2 separate regions of the Homo sapiens genome follow, and region 1 is linked to region 2. Evidence: fine-mapped expression QTL. A gene starts in region 2. The other region holds a variant in brackets. All regions are shown on one strand. Distances are between the middles of the regions. Region 1 overlaps ANKRD46 (ankyrin repeat domain 46). Region 2 holds the start of ANKRD46 (ankyrin repeat domain 46).

What was found.
Region 1: its variant is fine-mapped to the expression of ANKRD46 in esophagus muscle (GTEx, PIP above 0.99).

The regions. Positions count from the first base shown.
Region 1 is chr8:100,516,692-100,525,028 of GRCh38, reverse strand. It overlaps ANKRD46 (ankyrin repeat domain 46), which reads left to right. Exons shown (of 5, transcript NM_001270377.2): 5 at 2,258-4,257. The coding sequence ends at 2,474. Among named protein-coding and RNA genes, the nearest start is that of ANKRD46, 39 kb to the left of the region's middle. The variant T/C (reference allele first, on the strand shown) is at 3,389.
Region 2 is chr8:100,554,989-100,563,282 of GRCh38, reverse strand. ANKRD46 (ankyrin repeat domain 46) reads left to right here and starts at 3,524. Exons shown (of 5, transcript NM_001270377.2): 1 at 3,524-3,572. RefSeq lists enhancers at 3,221-3,360, 3,328-3,622 and a silencer at 3,361-3,530.

The DNA.
Region 1 (8,337 bases), 38 kb after region 2:
AACTCTAAGTTTAATTCCTTTTTACTTTGTAGGTATGGGATAACAAAAACAGTATAGCTATCACATTTTTTAAAAAAGATACATGCAAACACACCCCCCAAAGACAGTGTAGATATCACGTTTTTAAAAAAAGATTATACACACACCCCATTATGTTAGAATCAGATATTCCCTGGACAGTAGAAAGCATTTCATTGGATAAAGTCTTTATAGAATATCCCGATTGGCAGAGCTTCATGAGCTCTGAAGAACAATGAGAATGCTCATGGAATTTTCATTTTATACCTAACATGTATAAGGGCATGTCAACTCGTAATCAATAAATTTTACATAGGTCAAACTAAGCCTCTGCAGAACTGTGTTATCTATTTGTGGTTTTACTCTTTTAGGCCTTCTCAAAGTTCTAATCTTATTTTTAAACTTGCTGTCAAGTGTTCCAAAATTACTGTGGTGTTGTAGATTCCCACTGAAAACATCATCTCTTATTCAGAGAATAAACATGTTTTAATTATTAAAAAAAAAAAAGTTTGGGTGTTAAGCAGACTGGCCCATTAGGAAGTCAGTTTCCCATGATCAGAGAAGACCTCTAATGTTGGTAAAGGCTGAAGGACTTTTGTTTGATGGTATCAAGAAGTAAAATAAAGTTGTAGGTTAAAAAATGTCAGTTTTGCATGTTTATTCATAGTTCATAATGAATGAGACTCTAAGATACTGTTTTATGGGAGTTAGGAAGGATAGTAATGAACTTTGATAACCAGTAGATAGTTGATTCCTATGATCATGGTTATGGTGGCTTTAATCTAAATGATACCCTCTTATTGGGCCTGTATGTTGTGATATAACCATGAGTGCTCTTCCCTTAGTGCTTCCAAGTACCAAAGTCAGATGCAGTTTCTCTTTGTGGTAGTCGTATTTCTCATTGATAAAGTTCTGAAAACCAGAATCAGTGTTTTTATGGTATTTGCACTACCTTATTTTCAACTAGACTAGCCTTTATGCAGAAGAGAAATGAACATATTCTGTCTTACTGTACAAGATAGAACTAACACCAATAGGAAGAAACTATTAAGAATTCCTAATGACTAGGCCAGCTGTGGTGGCTCATGCCTGTAATCCCAGCACTTTGGGAGGTCAAGGCAGGTGGATCACCTAAACTCAGGAGTTCAAGACCAGCCTGGGCAACATGGCGAAACCCTGTCTCTACCAAAAATACAAAAATTAGCCAGCCATGGTGGCATGCACCTGTAGTCCCAGCTACCTGGGGGGCTGAGGCAGGAGGATTGCTTGAGCTGGGGAGGTGGAGGTTTCAGTGAGCTGAGATCGCATCACTGTATTCCAGCCTGGGCGGCAGAGTGAGATTCTGTCTCCAAAAAAAAAAAAGAATTTCTGATGACTAGACGAGTCCACATGTACAACAGGCTGAGGAGTAACCTTCCATTATTAGAGAATTACAATTAAAGAAGGAATTCCTTCATTGGTCAGATTATTGAACTAAATTAATAAAAATTCCCTTTTAACTTCAAGATTCACACACACTGTATAAGTGACTTTTTAGATTTACTCATCTTCCCCCCTCCCCCCAACAGACATTTACTTTCTCAGTTCTAGGGCCTAGAAGTCTGAGATCAAGGTGTCACAAAGTTGGTTTCTTCTAAGGCCTCTCTGCTTGACTTGTAGATGACTGTCCTCTTCAGGTGTCATCACCTGCATGTCTGCTTATTCGTATTAACACATTCTTAAATTATGAGTCTGCACTTTGAATCTTCTAAATTTAACATAACAAGAATGTGTTGTGGTTTAATATCTTGATGGAGACAACTCATAACCTATTTCAAGACTTCTGCTCAGGACACCTTAAAAAAAAATAGAGATGGTGTCTCGCTATGTTACCCAGGCTGGTCCCGAACTCCTGGGCTCAAGTGATCCTCCCTCCTTGGCCTGCAAAAGTGTCGGGATTACAGGCATGAGCTACCACGCCCAGCCAGGACCTTTTAAATAGAATTTTTAACTTGAGTTTACTAAATTCTAAACCAAGAGAAACATACTCATTACCATTTAGCAATTTACAGTTTAGTATATATTGTTCAGATACGTAAGCATGTAAGAGTGTGTATATATATATATGTGTGTGTGTGTGTGTGTGTGTGTGTGTGTGTGTGTGTGTATTTGGTCTTTTCTAAATAGTAGCCCTGTGGTTTTATGTTTTTGGAATTGCTGTGTTTTTTTAATGCCCTTTTTGCTCTTTCTTCTTCCACAGTGCCATGGAAAGCCATTCACTCCTCAATCCCAACCTGCAGCAAGGTGAAGGAGTCCTCTCCAGCTTCCGAACCACGTGGCAGGAGTTTGTGGAGGATCTGGGCTTCTGGAGAGTATTGCTGTTGATCTTCGTCATTGCTTTGCTGTCTCTTGGCATTGCTTATTATGTGAGTGGGGTGCTACCCTTCGTGGAAAACCAGCCTGAACTGGTGCATTAAAGGAGCTCATGGAAGATGAGGCAATTAATTGCCTGTTTCCTGGCTTCCAATGTTTGTTCTCAGTTTCTCAGAATTTTTCTTAGCGCAAAGCAGTGAGGGCAGTACATGTTCTTTTTGCATTTTTAATTATTGTAATCCTTTTAGATAATGATGTGTTCATTTGAACTAACTACATACTATGATCAAGTATATTGCATCCTAACGCTACCTCTGACTCAACCTGACTTTGTAGGAAAGCCTACACGTAGCCTTGTTTGATAAAAACACGGAAGTGACTAGAGAATGGAAGATAAAGGAAGAAGCTAGGAAGTCCTTGCTATCAAAACCTTATCCTAATATAGGACCAATTGAAGTATTCAAAAAGAAAAACAGTATCTTATATGATTAGTTTTTGTTGGTGGTTTTGTTTTCATTTATTTTTGCAAGAGCCACTTTTTATTTACTTTCTCTAGGGATAAGAGATAAAACTTGAAGTACTTTTTTCAAATCTTGTGTGCAAATTAGTATTGTTAGCATCTATTTGGCTTATTTTAGTATTTTTAAGTCTAGTCACAAACCAAACAAAACTTTTGAAAATGAGCTATATTTTGTTCAAAGATAATTGATTTGATCTTATATTTATTTGTTTTTAGGATAATTTTTGATCTTTTTGTAAACTGCTTTGCTTGTTAATATCTGTGAAAAATAAATGAGTTCATTTTGTTCACTTTCCAATTTTCCCGAGTATCCTAGTCATCAAAGATAACAGTTCATCAGAATTACAGTCAGAAAATCCTTTTTCTACTGAATAGTTAGCAGGGAAAAATAATTCTGATATTTAACTGTCATAATTCTGTAGTGCTATTATAGTGAAAAACTCAGTTCTATAAGCTAGCTGTGTTGTCACAGTTTTATCATAGTTCATAATTATTTCA[T/C]GTGCAATCCTATTTGGAGGCCCTGTTAGACTTTTAACAATCCCATCCATATCTGTAATTCTCTGATGGCAAGAATGGATGGAGCATTTCTGAGTTAACAGTGCTGGACAGTATCGTACTGGGTGTCATAAACTCTTTATGAATGGTAATATTATGTAAATTGAAATCTGGCCCTCAAACTATATTGCAGCTTTCAGCAGTATGTTTGAAGGCCTCTTTTGTTAATGATTCTGTAATGTATGAATTATGTTCTTGAGTGGTTAAAAAAGAATATGAAGGCTTGATAATTATTTATTGGGTAAAGTCAGGAAATTGTAGTGAAAGAACTAATGGTTTTGTTTTTTGGAATAAAGGCACCTAAGCTATTGCTAATTGAATTGCTGCTAGAATTAGAAATTATGCTTTAGAATAGAATTGGTATTTCTGTGATTCTTTTTGCTTCTTGGTATTTTCTCTTGTATCTATGTATCTAGTATTGAGGCTTGCTCTTTCATGTGGCTTTATCCTCTCTTTAATAGCTGTTGTAAAATTCCTGAGTAACTGGCTGCTTCAGGATCAGCTTGCAGAGTCTTGCTTTTAGGTTAGATACAAACAAAGTAAATCATAGTTGGTGTAAATCCAGCAAAAAACAGCTGGCTTTGGAATGGAGAACACTACAATTCAAATTTGAAGTATATTCAGAAGAAAACTTTGGAATTAGCTTTACATTTGTTTGTAAATCTAAACAAATATGCAAAATTGGTCAAAATGTAAGTATATAGCATTTTTAAAGATTAATGGTTCCTTTTATGTGCTGATTTCTTTGTATTCTGTTCTCTGCATTCATCATTCAGGAATACCACCAATAAATGTATTTATATATCCCTTAATCACGATTTCTCTTTTTTTTTTTTTTTTTTAGTGTATTATAGTTTTAATTTGGGGATTTTGTAATGGATTGCAATTAGCTGCTTTTTAAAACACAGCTTTTTTTCAAACCTAATGTATTAGGTATATTGAGTTTCATATATGTTTGCCTTATAAATACTGTGAAATTAATTTGAGTGAATTGCTCGTAGATTTAAGGGTGATGATCATAACTACCACAATTAAGCCCCTCCCAATTATGCAAGTTTTTAGCATGCAAGTTTTACCCTACGCCCCCTTGAGCACTACATGACCCCAGTTTATAAGATGAGAAAATGGACACAGGGATGGCTAAGTAACTTGTCCAAGGTCAAACAGGTAGGACCTGGTGGAAGAGGGATTCCAGATTGAGGCTCCAGCCCCAATTATGCTTGTGCTTTCCTCCTGTCCCGCTGTCTTTCATGAATCTGGAAATGGAACCATATTTATCCAGAACCTCGCCTGATACCATTTCAGCAGGACATTACTAAATTTTCCACTCGTGGTCCTATATACTTACTTTTTTTCCTTTCTTACACATCTTCCCAGTGGTAGAAGCTTTAATATTCAAGCTCCAACCCTGGCTTGTCAGAAAGTCTTCCATAGTTAACCGTACTTGACTGCCTCCTTCCCAACCCCTCCTTTCCCCACCACTTACCACACTCAGTTTTATTACTTGTATTTTGCATTCCTTGATCCGTTTCTCTGTAAACATGATTTTCTTTCTAACTTGTTTAATTGTAAGCTTCATGAGAGCAGGGACTTAGTCTATTTTTATAACCCCATCTGTCTACAGAGCATCCTGTAGAGCTCTTGGTACACAAATACTTATAGCATTGCTTTTATACCTGTAGCTATATTTTTTCTTTTCAGGTTGAATAGCTCTTTGCCTTTTATGCATCCCCCGCAACAAGCTGCAGGTGTGAGCTGTGCTTGGTCCTCCTTCCACAGTGCGCCTGTAGCTTCATGAACGAACTATACAGGCTGGCAGTGTGGAGCCCCCTCACCTGTGGAGCATGCAGGCTTCCGATCAGCAGCACCTGCCACAGGTTTACCACTTCGTGTAGAAGCCCAGGAACAATATTCACCTGCCACTGCTGCTGTTTTGGTTTCTATGTTTTTATTTCAAAACCAGGCCTCAGTCTTTGACTTGTGAAATTGTTTATGCATGTATCAAAGTGCTTTCAGCTGCAGGAACCAAAATCCGAATTCAAAACGGCTTACCCCATAGGAAATGTATTTGTTTATGTAACTGAAAGTCCAGTTACATAAAGCCCGTTTACATAAAAAGGTAGGGTTGACCCCAAGGGTGACATCATCCAGAATCTTTAGCCCAGTTCCCTTGTGCTCTTGCCCTGCCCTCCTTGTTGGCTGCTTCCTCCAGCTGGTTCTGCAATGAGTACAGAATTTTTAGACATCACATCCATTTATCACCACATAGAGAAGAGACCGTCTTTCCTGTGACTCCCTCGTAGGAAACTTTGATGCAAACAAGCTGTTTCATTGGCTGACATGATATCATGTACCCCATTCTCAAACCAACCAGTACCCTTACACAGGTTGACTTAGGCCTGGATTGATGAACCAGTCATTGGCAGGGGTGGGGTTGGTAGAATTCATATGTTGAGCTTGGACTAATGGTTTTAGAAGTGATTAGGGCCACTCCTGGCAATCAGTGGGCAGGGACCATAGTTGTTTTACATCCCACAGTGCATGGGACAGTTTAGTCTAACAAAGGATTGTTCTAAATCCCACATGATTCTTGAATGTTCTGCTGGACATTCGTGTGTTTAGAAAACAAACAATTTTAGATATCTGAACCTAAAACCCAACCATTTCACATTTTAAAACAAGGTATTATTTGGTATAGTTTTATTTTTTTATTTTATTTATTTTTTTTTTTTGAGACAGAGTCTCGCTCTGTCGCCCAGGCTGGAGTGCAGTGGTGCAATCTTGGCTCACTGCAAGCTCTGCCTCCCGGGTTCACGCCATTCTCCTGCCTCAGCCTCCTGAGTAGCTGGGATTACAGGGGCGTGCCACCACGCCCAGCTAATTTTTTGTATTTTTTAGCAGAGACGGGGTTTCACCATGTTAGCCAGGATGGTCTCGATCTCCTGACCTCGTGATCCACCCGCCTCGGCCTCCCAAAGTGCTGGGATTACAGGCGTGAGCCACCCCACCCGGCCTGGTATATAGTTTTAATGTATCATGAATTTTCCAAGAATACAACCACGAGATAATTAAGGGAAGATTCGACTTCATTTTGTTCAAAACTTTATCAAGAATTGCACCGCTTTTCAAAAATCTTGTTATTGACAGCAGTGCTACTTATAATTAAGTCATCAACATAATTCTATTACAGATAGTAATGACTTCGTTGTTTCTTCTAATGTAGCTGGGCCTGAGCATTTACATATTGAAATATACATTTTATTATAAATTTCTTTCCCTTTATTTTGTGTTTCTATTACATAATTTATGTGAAATCATTTTATTGATTTTGACAGTTGTTAACTCCTACTTATCTGGGAGCCATTCTATAGCTTAGCTTATTTAATCTTTTTTAAGACAGAGTCTCACTCTTTCACCCAGGCTGGAGTGCAGTGGTGTGACCTAGGCTCACTACAACCTCCGCCTTCCAGGTTCAAGCTATTCTCCTGTCTCAGCCTCCCTAGGAGCTGGGATTACAGGTGTGCACTACCATGCCTGGCTAATTTTTGTATTTTTAGTAGAGATGGGTTTTCGTCATGTTGGCCAGGCTGTTCTTGAACTTCTGACCTCAAGTGATCTGCCTGCCTCGGCCTCCCAAAGTGCTGGGATTACAGGCGTGAGCCACTGCGCCCAGCCTTATGTAGTCATCTTGATGTACCTTTTCCAAATAGTTTATCTTGGAGTGAACACCAGGAAGTAGCTTTTCCCAAAGTTAATAGAACATTTGGGGAAAATGAGGCCAGTATCTGATTAAAACACCTTTAAAATTGTTCAGGCCGAAGCAATTCCAGCTGTGCTAAAATAGAACTTTGGGATGAGGTTAATTCCTTTGTGCTCCAAGTAGATTCAAAACAATTTTCTAAGGGGGGATCTTGGCCTTGGCTCCCCTCAAAGCACACATAGGCTGGCATTCTGTTCAGCCACTCATTCTTGACTTTTCACAGCACAACCAGACTGCTCCATAGCCAGAGGCATAGGTGTCTACATTCACCTGGGGACAGAGATTTGGCCACACTCCTTAGATGTCAAGGACTACAATCTGGAGTTCCTTGCTACCCAACACTCATTAAAAGCTTAGCTGATAACAGTATTTAGAGAATATTGCTTGGAGGATGTTTTAGAGCAGCACTGTCCAATCAAACTTGGCAACGTTGAAAATTTTCTATATGCTGTCCAATGCAGTAGCCACTTGCCACCTGTGGCTGTTTAAATTACATTAGAAATTCATTTCTTTATTAGCCACATTTCTGGTACTCTTGGGCAGCAAAGGTAAAGAAGATTCCATTTTTACAGGAAGTTCTTTGGGACCACACTGTTGTAGAAACCGCCTTGAGTTCAAGTCAGGTCAGTGGAGAGCTGGGTACTTGAACTGTGCTAATAGTAGTGCCCAGCCCAACTGCTTTTACTGAGCTCTTCATTAATAAGTGGTAATGCTATACTTATTAACTCAATCTTCACAAATGCTATTATTGTCCCCACCTCACCATTAGAGAAACTAAGGCATTTGAGGCAGGGTTGAATAGCATGCCCAAGGTAACACGGCCAGTAAGCGGCAGAGCTGGGATTTGAACTCAGGCAGTATGGGACCGGGGTCTCTTGTCACCATCCTGCTGTGATGCCTGTCTACTTAGTTGTGATGCAATTGTCTTGAAGTGAAAATTGTCTTCTGTGGATTTAACCATTGGATCTATAAAGGAAAGCTACTGAGGATGCTGTTGGCACCATTCTTTATGAAGACCCCTGACAAGGAACTTTTGTTTCTTAACACGCACAACTGTATTTCTGCTGAGCAGTTACTTTACTTTCAATTTATGTTCTCTAGGAGTTGCGTAATTGATCAGGTAGAATTCATC
Region 2 (8,294 bases):
CAGTCACCGTGGTGGTGCTAAGGATTCAGTGGTAGAGACACTGCCACAGAAGGTGATAGCTTTCTGCCATCAGGATTCACAGGCCAAACATACCGTCTCCTCTGTCTAGAATACTTCCCTTGTTCATTACATAATTAATTCCTCATGCTTTGCATCTTAGATTAAATATCACTTATTCAAAGACATTGTTGCCCTTCTATCTAAATTAGCTCCCATATTGTTTGCCCTCAAGGAATCCTTTCTCTTTCGCTTCATGACACTTATCTCGGTTGTAATTACAGGTATTCCTCCGCCATTGGAACTCTCACGATCAAAACTCAGGACCAGATAGATTTTAGTAATGAGGAAGAAGAGGCAGACTTACCTGAAGAGTGTAAAGTTTAAGCTTCAGGGCTCTTGTGGTAGGCTGGATAACAGATCCTCAAAGATGTCCACATCCTAATCCTAATCCCCAGAATCTATGAATATGTTGCTTTGCATGGTAAAAAGAACTTTGCAAATGTGATTAAGTGAAAGATCTTGAGATAGGGAGATTATTCTGGATTATCCAAGTGTGCCCAATATAATCACAAGGGTCCTTATAAGGAGACAGGAGAGTCACAGAGGAAATGCAAGGACAGAAGCAGAAGTCAGAGGGGTGTAAAAATGCTCTACACTGCTAGCTTTGAGGATGGAAAAAGGAGCCATGAGCCAGGGACGTAGGTGGCCTCTAGGAGCTGGAGAAGGCATGGCAACCAACTCCCCTGAGAATCTCCAGAAGGAAAGCACTTCCCGCACTTTGATTTTAGCTCAGCGAAACTGATTTTGGACTTCTCACCTCTTGAACTGTAAAATAATCCTTGTTTTAAAGTATTAAATTTAGGGTAATTTGTTACAATGACAATAGGAAACCAATATATAGCCCTCCCTTGTTCAGGCCCCTTCCAAGGCCCTGGGAAGCAGTGCTGATATGGTTATATGTTTTTGTAAAGCTTGCAAAATTAAAATACTTTACCTACAATTGATTAAGATTTCTCTCTTTCCACTGAGACTTCCGGAGTATTCTTCTACTGGCTAACATTGGAGTGACTACAGGCATTTTTGGGATCCAGCTAAACAGAAATGCAGCTGGGGGTACTTTGGTTTGCATTTAATGGGAGACGTTCATGTGGTTCGTGGTCACTTCCATGCACTATTAACTTATTGCTGGAGAGTAGGAATGGCTTCTGCAAATGCTCCTGTATTAGTCCATTCTCACACTGCTATGAAGAAACACCTAAGACTGAGTAATTTATAAGAAAAGACGTGTGATTGACTCACAGTTGAATCACAATTCTGCATGGCTGGGGCAGCCTTAGGAAACTTACAATCATGGCAGAAGGCACTTCTTGACAGGGTGGTAGGAGACAGAATGAGTGCTGAGCAAAAGGAGAAGCCCCTTATAAAACCATCAGATCTCATGAGAACTCACGCGCTCTCATGAGAACAGCATAGGGGAAACTGCCCCCATGATTCAATTATCTTCACCTGGTCCTGCCCTTGACATATGGGTATTATTATAATTCAAGATGAGATTTTGGGCAGGGACACAGCCAAACCATATCAGCTCCTAACAGCCACTGTGTCAAAGTGCCCAGGTGTGGTAACATGAAGGAGCCATAGAATATGTGCAGCATGCAGTTCACTTTAATCTCATCAGAGAAAAAAGCTGTCTTCACCATCCCTACATTTTTTCATATCAATCAAAAGCAGTAATTCATGAAGAGGAAGAGATAAATTTGAATAGAAGTAATGGAGAGGCTCTCAGATTGTTGGATGAGTCAACTAATGAAGAGTAAATCTTATTAATACATTGGGAAAAGCTTTAATTTCCTTGCTAATTTGTCATAGTTTATAGGCATCAGTGAAGATATTATAAACTCAATACACAACCAGAAGGAGGACATCAATAACAAACTGATTAATAAATGTCATCAATTTAACAAGTAATATTGCTGATTAGTCATAGCACAATAAAATGTGAAATGCCCTAAGATCTTATAACTTTTTTTTTTTTGAGATGGAGTCTTGTTCTGTCACCCAGGCTGGAGTGCAGTGGTGAGATCTCGGCTCATTGTGACCTCCGCCTTTTGGGGTTCAAGGATTCTTGTGCCTCAGCCTCCTGAGTAGCTGGGATTACAGGTGTGCAACACCGTGCCTGGCTAATTTTTGTATTTTTGTAGAGCCAAGGTTTCACCATGTTGGTCCGGCTGGTCTCGAACTCCTGACCTCAAGTGATCTGTCCACCCCAGCATCCCAAAGTGCTGGGATTACAGGTGTGAGCCACCGTGCATGGCCAGATCTTATAATTCTTACATGAAAGAAATGTAATAGTGATTTCCTCTAATATGACAATAGTCCTAAACCTTTACATGACACTTTCAAGAACAAATTATTAGATGGTGTAGGTGGTCCTTGAATGAATGAACCATGAGATACCCTAGAGCAGGGGTGTCCAATCTTTTGGCTTCCCTGGGCCACATTGGAAGAAGAATTGTCTTGGGCCACACATAAAATACACTAACACCAGCAATTGTTGATGAGCTAAAAAAAAATTGCAAAAAAAAAAAAACTCATAATGTTTTAAGAGAGTTTATTAATTTGTGTTGGGCTGCATTCTAAACTGTCTTGGCTGCATGCAGCCTGCAGGTGTGGGCCAGGGGTTGGACAAGTTTGCCATAGAGCGTGGCTTGGTTGGATGAGGGTGCTAGAATTCAGAGGACGGTCACTGTGCAGTGAGAGTTGTCTTGGCTGTAGGACTGGAGTTGGTAAAATGAAAAAAAGAAAAAACTAGTTTTGCATGAAAGAATGTTTCCAGCATATGAATGTCCCACCACACTTTTAGTTAGTCTTGGCTGTACATGTTGCAATAAGTCAAGGAACCCTACAAAGTAGGATGGAAGGATTCAAACTGCGAATCGCTTGAACCCGGAAGGCGGAGTTGGAGTTTGCAGTGAGCCGAGGTTGAGCAACTGCACTCCAGCCTGGGCGACAGAGTGAGACTCCGTCTAAAAAAAAAAAAAAAAAAAAAGATTCAAACTGCTTTTGAAAAAAGTAAAAATGCAGGGTTATATTTTAGAAATAGTGCAGCCAATCATTAGTGGCTATTCCTAATATGTCAATTTCGGGTCTATAGAAGACCTACCTAGAGGCCAGCAACTATTAATTGATGCTTATAGCACCTAATGAAACTGCCCTTGCCTTTGAAGCCCCCATTTAGCTAAGGGGATGGGATGTGAATTTAGAATAGGACGTGAAAAGTGCAAAATGCTCCCGGACTCAGATCGGATAAACCTCTTCTAGGCTGTCTTTCTCTTCTGAAGCCACAGTTTTGATGCTTTCCCTAATTCAGAGCAGGCTTTCCCGGAGTCTCTGACTCAGAGCAGCCCGAGCCACCGTGAGGACCGCCCACCTGCAGGGGGCGCGCCGGGGGCTGCAGCGCGAGACCGCTCTGGCCCAGCGGGGACTCCGACTACCCCTGTCTGGCCCCTCCCCTCCGCCCGTCACCGCCTCCTTGAAGCTGCCGCTGTCGCTGCTGCTCGTTCGAGTCGCAGGTACTTGGCCCGGGGCCTGTGGGCAGCGCCTGGGCTAGAGCCACTTGATATCTCCTGCACCGTCCCTGTAGCACTGGAGGTCCAGTAGGCCTGGCCGGGGCCCTGAGGGGCGAGGGTGCCCGGGCTTCCCACACCTTCCGCGGCGACTGGAGGGAGCCGGGCCGAGGAAGCGACCGCGGGTCCGTGATGGCTTCTTCGCGGTCTGTGTGTTCACGAGGGCCGGGCAGAGGCCTGCGAGGGTTCTCGTTTGCGCTTGCGGGTTAGGGCTGTGGTCCGGGGAACCCCTGGGCAGCGCGGGCAGCCCTGGCTCGCGGTTAATCGGGGGGTGGAGCGCGGAAGCCACGCCGCAGGTCCAGCTGCTCGGCCGGGGCGAGACGGTGCTTTCGCGGCGTGTGCTTGCAGGAGCGCACAGTTCAGGCGCCGGGACAAGCTGTTGGGGTGTGAGTGAGCTCTCCAGAATGGCACATGGCTCCGGGGTGCCCGGGTTAAAAGGAAGGATTTGCACACCTTCCACTTAGGGCTCGGGTAATCGCAAACTTCCTCCCTTAATTGGCTTGCAGTGCTAAAAAGCAGATCGTTCTCTCTGAGGTTTTCCCAACAGTACCTCAAGAAAATAACATCTGTTTTTTGTAACGTTCCACGGTATTCGGAATTGGCTACAGAACATAATAAGGTAAAAATATGCCATTGAATAGTAGCGCTTCTCAATCTTTAAAAAATGACGGTGGTACCTAGGAGCCTCTTAAAGAGCTGTAATATGAGTGGTGTGGGGATTATTTTTATGTTCTAGTAATAGCTATTTTCAGTGCTTATTTTATGTCAGACACGGTGCCATTGCTTTAAATACCTGGTACCTTTAATCCTTGAAGCAACCCTATCAGGTACCATTTCCATTATACAGATAAGGAAACTGAGGCACCGAGAGTCTGACTTCTCCAAGGTCAGAAAGCTAGCAAAGGCTGAGCGAGATTTGGTCTCATCTCCCTTACTTCAGTATCCCTGCGTCTGTTATCTAGCCAAACATGTAGCGCTGTCTAAGAGTTTTATCAATTAGATTTGTAGCCTGAACTGATTTCTCTCAGGCTTAGTTTTCATGGTTATATGCAGGAGTCCTACATGAACTCCTTTTTAGTTTAAAAGGAGTTTAGTAAGAAAACTGTTAGCTCATTAAGGACTATAGTGATAATAAAGTTAAACTTGGACTGGGGTTCTCACTGTGCCAGTACAATTTGATTTGAAATAGAGATGAATTTGTTTGGTTGTTAACACACTTTATTACATTTCTTCATTATTTATGTTTCCATACCATTTTTTAGTGAGTTCACTTTGCCTTTGCATTATTATGGTAGCAGTACCAGAGGGAAATCAAAGATTTTTTGATGATAGTAAGTTAATATTTTACAGAATACAGGAAAGGCACTGGAGAGAGGATGTGAAGTGATAAGGAATTTTTGGCATGTTATATAAATTGTGTTACTATGGAAAACAAAGGATTCTCACAGTTCTTTATCAAAAGGGAAATTGTATTTCCCATTGTGGAAATAAGTTGGGCTTTATAGTCCCAAACTTCTTAGCCTTACCTATTATAGATTTAAGAATTTGCATATTCGGCATTCATATAGCAAGCGTATATTGAGTGCCTTCTATGGCCAGGCTCTGTTCTAAGCACTGGGGGATGTGAGAGTGAACAAAATGAAGTCCTTGTCTTCCAGGAGCTAACATGTCACTGGAGGAAGGTGGGGTTGGGGACGATAAGCGGGATTTGTGAAAGTTAACGTATCTGGAGTCAGATGGTAACAGTTACTAGGAATAAAAATAAAGTAGCAAAGGGGGATAGGAAGCACCAAGGAAGGAACAGGTGCAGTTTTAAAATAAGGACTGGTGCCATGGAAAAGACTCAAGCAAAACTGAAGGCGTTGGGGACCGCCATGCAGCTGTCTAGGGAAAGAGCATACCAAGCAAGGGCAAAAGCCCAGAACCCTTCAGTCTTGTTAGAGGGACAGCAAGAGAGGAACAGCAAGGAGGCCAGTAGATTTGAGCACCTGGAGGGAAGGAGGGTGAGACAAGGTCAGAGAGCTAATGGGCCCAGGTAAGGACTTTTGCTTTTACTCTGAGTGAGAAGGGAGGTGTTTGGAGGGTTTTGAGCAGAGGAATGAGGGGATCTGGCTTAAGGTTTTTAAAGGATCACTCTGGCTGCTGTGTTCAGTGTTGACTGTAAGGGCAAGGATGGAAGCAGGGAGACCTGTTAGGTTGATGCAGTAATTGAAGCCAGAGAGAATGGTGGCTTAGACCAGGTGGGTAGTAAGAGAGGCAGTAAGAAGCCGTCGTATTCTGAGTATTGCTGATAGGATTTGCTTATGGTTTGGATGTGCTTATGAGAGAAAGGGTGAAGCACGACCCTGTGGCCTTTGGCCTGAGCTATTGGAAGGCTTTAGTTAAACAGTGTACTGAGATGGAGAAGACTGAGTGTGAAGGTAGGTGGAGCCAGTTTTAGTCAGGTTTGAGATGCCTGTTCAAGTGGGGTTATAGAGACGGGAGTTGAAGAGAAAGGTCCAACTGGAAATAGAAATTTGGGAAGTCACTAATGCAAGCTTGTGCAACCCAAATTTGTAAACTTACTTAAAACATTATGAGATTGATTGTATTTTTTTTTAAGCTCATCAGCTATCGTTATATGTGTGCCCCAAGACAGTTATTCCACTGTGGCCCAGGAAAGCCAAAAGATTGGCTACCCCTGCACAGAAGGGTAGTATTTAAAGCCATGAGCCTATGAGATCTAGTGTAAGGAAATGAGAATTGAGCTCTAGGGCTTTCCACATTCAGATATTGGAGAGATGAATAATTACAAAGGAGAGGCTTTTGAAGGTAGGAGGAAAAAGAAGCGAGTATGGAGTACTGAAGGCCAAGTAAAGAGTTTTTCAGGGAGAAAGTGACCAACTGTGTCTCCTCCTGCTGATTGACAAGTCAAGTAAGATGAAGACTAGGAGATGACCATTGGATTTAGTAATAGGAAGGTCCTTGGTGACCTTGCAAGAGCACTTTCAGGAGAATAGTGAGGAAGAAAACCTGATTGGTGTGGTTTCAAGAGACAACAGGAGGAAGAGCATTGGAGACTGCAGTATGGACAGCTCTTTGGAAGAGGTTAGCTGTAAATTTTTCATATGTCGGTTATTTGAAAGCACTGTAGTCGTTCCCATAGTAAATTTTTATTTCCAGCTTAAGCTACTGATTAATACCTACTACACTTGGATTGTTTTAATCAATGACTGGTGGAAATAAAATAGCTATCCTACTGCTGATCATAATAATAATGTATACTTAACTTTCTAAACCAATAAAGCGTGTCCTTTTTACGTAGTACATTTCAGAGCCCATAAAAATGCTTGGGTGGGCTGGGCGAAGTGGCTCATGCCTGTAATCCCAACACTTTGGGAGGCCGAGACTGGAGGATCTGTTGAGCTCAGGAGTTCAAGACCAGCCTGGACAACATAGGGAGAGCTCATCTCTACAAAAAACTTTAAAATTAGTTGGGCGTGCTAGCACACACCTGTGGTCCCAGCTACTTGGAAGGCTGAGGTGGAAGCATCTCATGGGCCTGGGAGATTGAGGCTTCAGTGAGCCATGATTGAGCCACTGCATAGTTTCAAATGTAGTAGGTGTATAAAAAGAATGCAATTTTTATCTTAAGGCATGAGTTCAGGTTCTTGTTTCTGCCCTCAGCAAGTTAATGTCCAAACCCAAATACAAAATAATCAAGGTACGCAGTAAAATACCAGATTTACACCATCCTGACTGGATAAATGTGCCTTTTCCATAGCAAATACAGCCATCTGTTGCATTGTAGATGTAAAATGATTAAAATATTTCAAAGTTTAGGGTTATAGCTACTGATTTTTTAAATCCAATAATTTTATCTAAAAGATAACAGGTCCTTTAGATGTGGAAATCTTTTTTTTTTTTTTTTTTTTTTTTTTTTTTTTTTTTTTTTAGCTGAGGAAAATATTAAGTTGGTGCCTTTTGTTTTGCTCTTGTTTTTTTCTCCAGGAATTTTTCATTGGTTGGCTCTCCTTTCTTGTTCTCATTGCTGTCATCTCACACATCCTTTCTAACTTTTTTCTTTTGCATAGCTTCTTAAGTTAGGCCCTTCCATCACTGATTTCCTTACTGCTTATAATTTGGATTTTAAATTTCTATTGTGTTTTTATTTAACTTATAGTCTTTTTTTTTTTAGTCCCAGTCCTCTTTAATACTGTTTTTTCCCCCACCCTGAGTTCTTAATTTTTTGTATGTCCCTGAGAGCACAGTATTTTTCTGGATTTTTTTCATTTTCTTATTGTAAGTAATTCTCAGTGGTGTGCTTTTCTTCATGTAGATCTAGTGCACCTCTTTGCTTCTGGTGTAGAATTTTTTCACTGACTCCATGTTGACTTTCTTTTGGTTTTTTTTTTATCCTTTAAAAATGAAAGAACTTCTGAGACTATAATATTGAATTTGTCATACTAGTACCATTCTACTGAAGGTTTTTTCTAGATTTCCTATAAGGAAAATAATTAGAGAACTGGGTTTTGTCTAGGCATTCTATAAAAGACACTATTGTGATGTTTGTAAAAGATTTCTATTTAAAATAACTTTCAGTACTATTAGAACTTAAGTTTATGGTTATGTCTCTGTGATAAGTACTTTTTTTTTTTTTTTGGAGATGGAGTCTCACTCTATCACCCA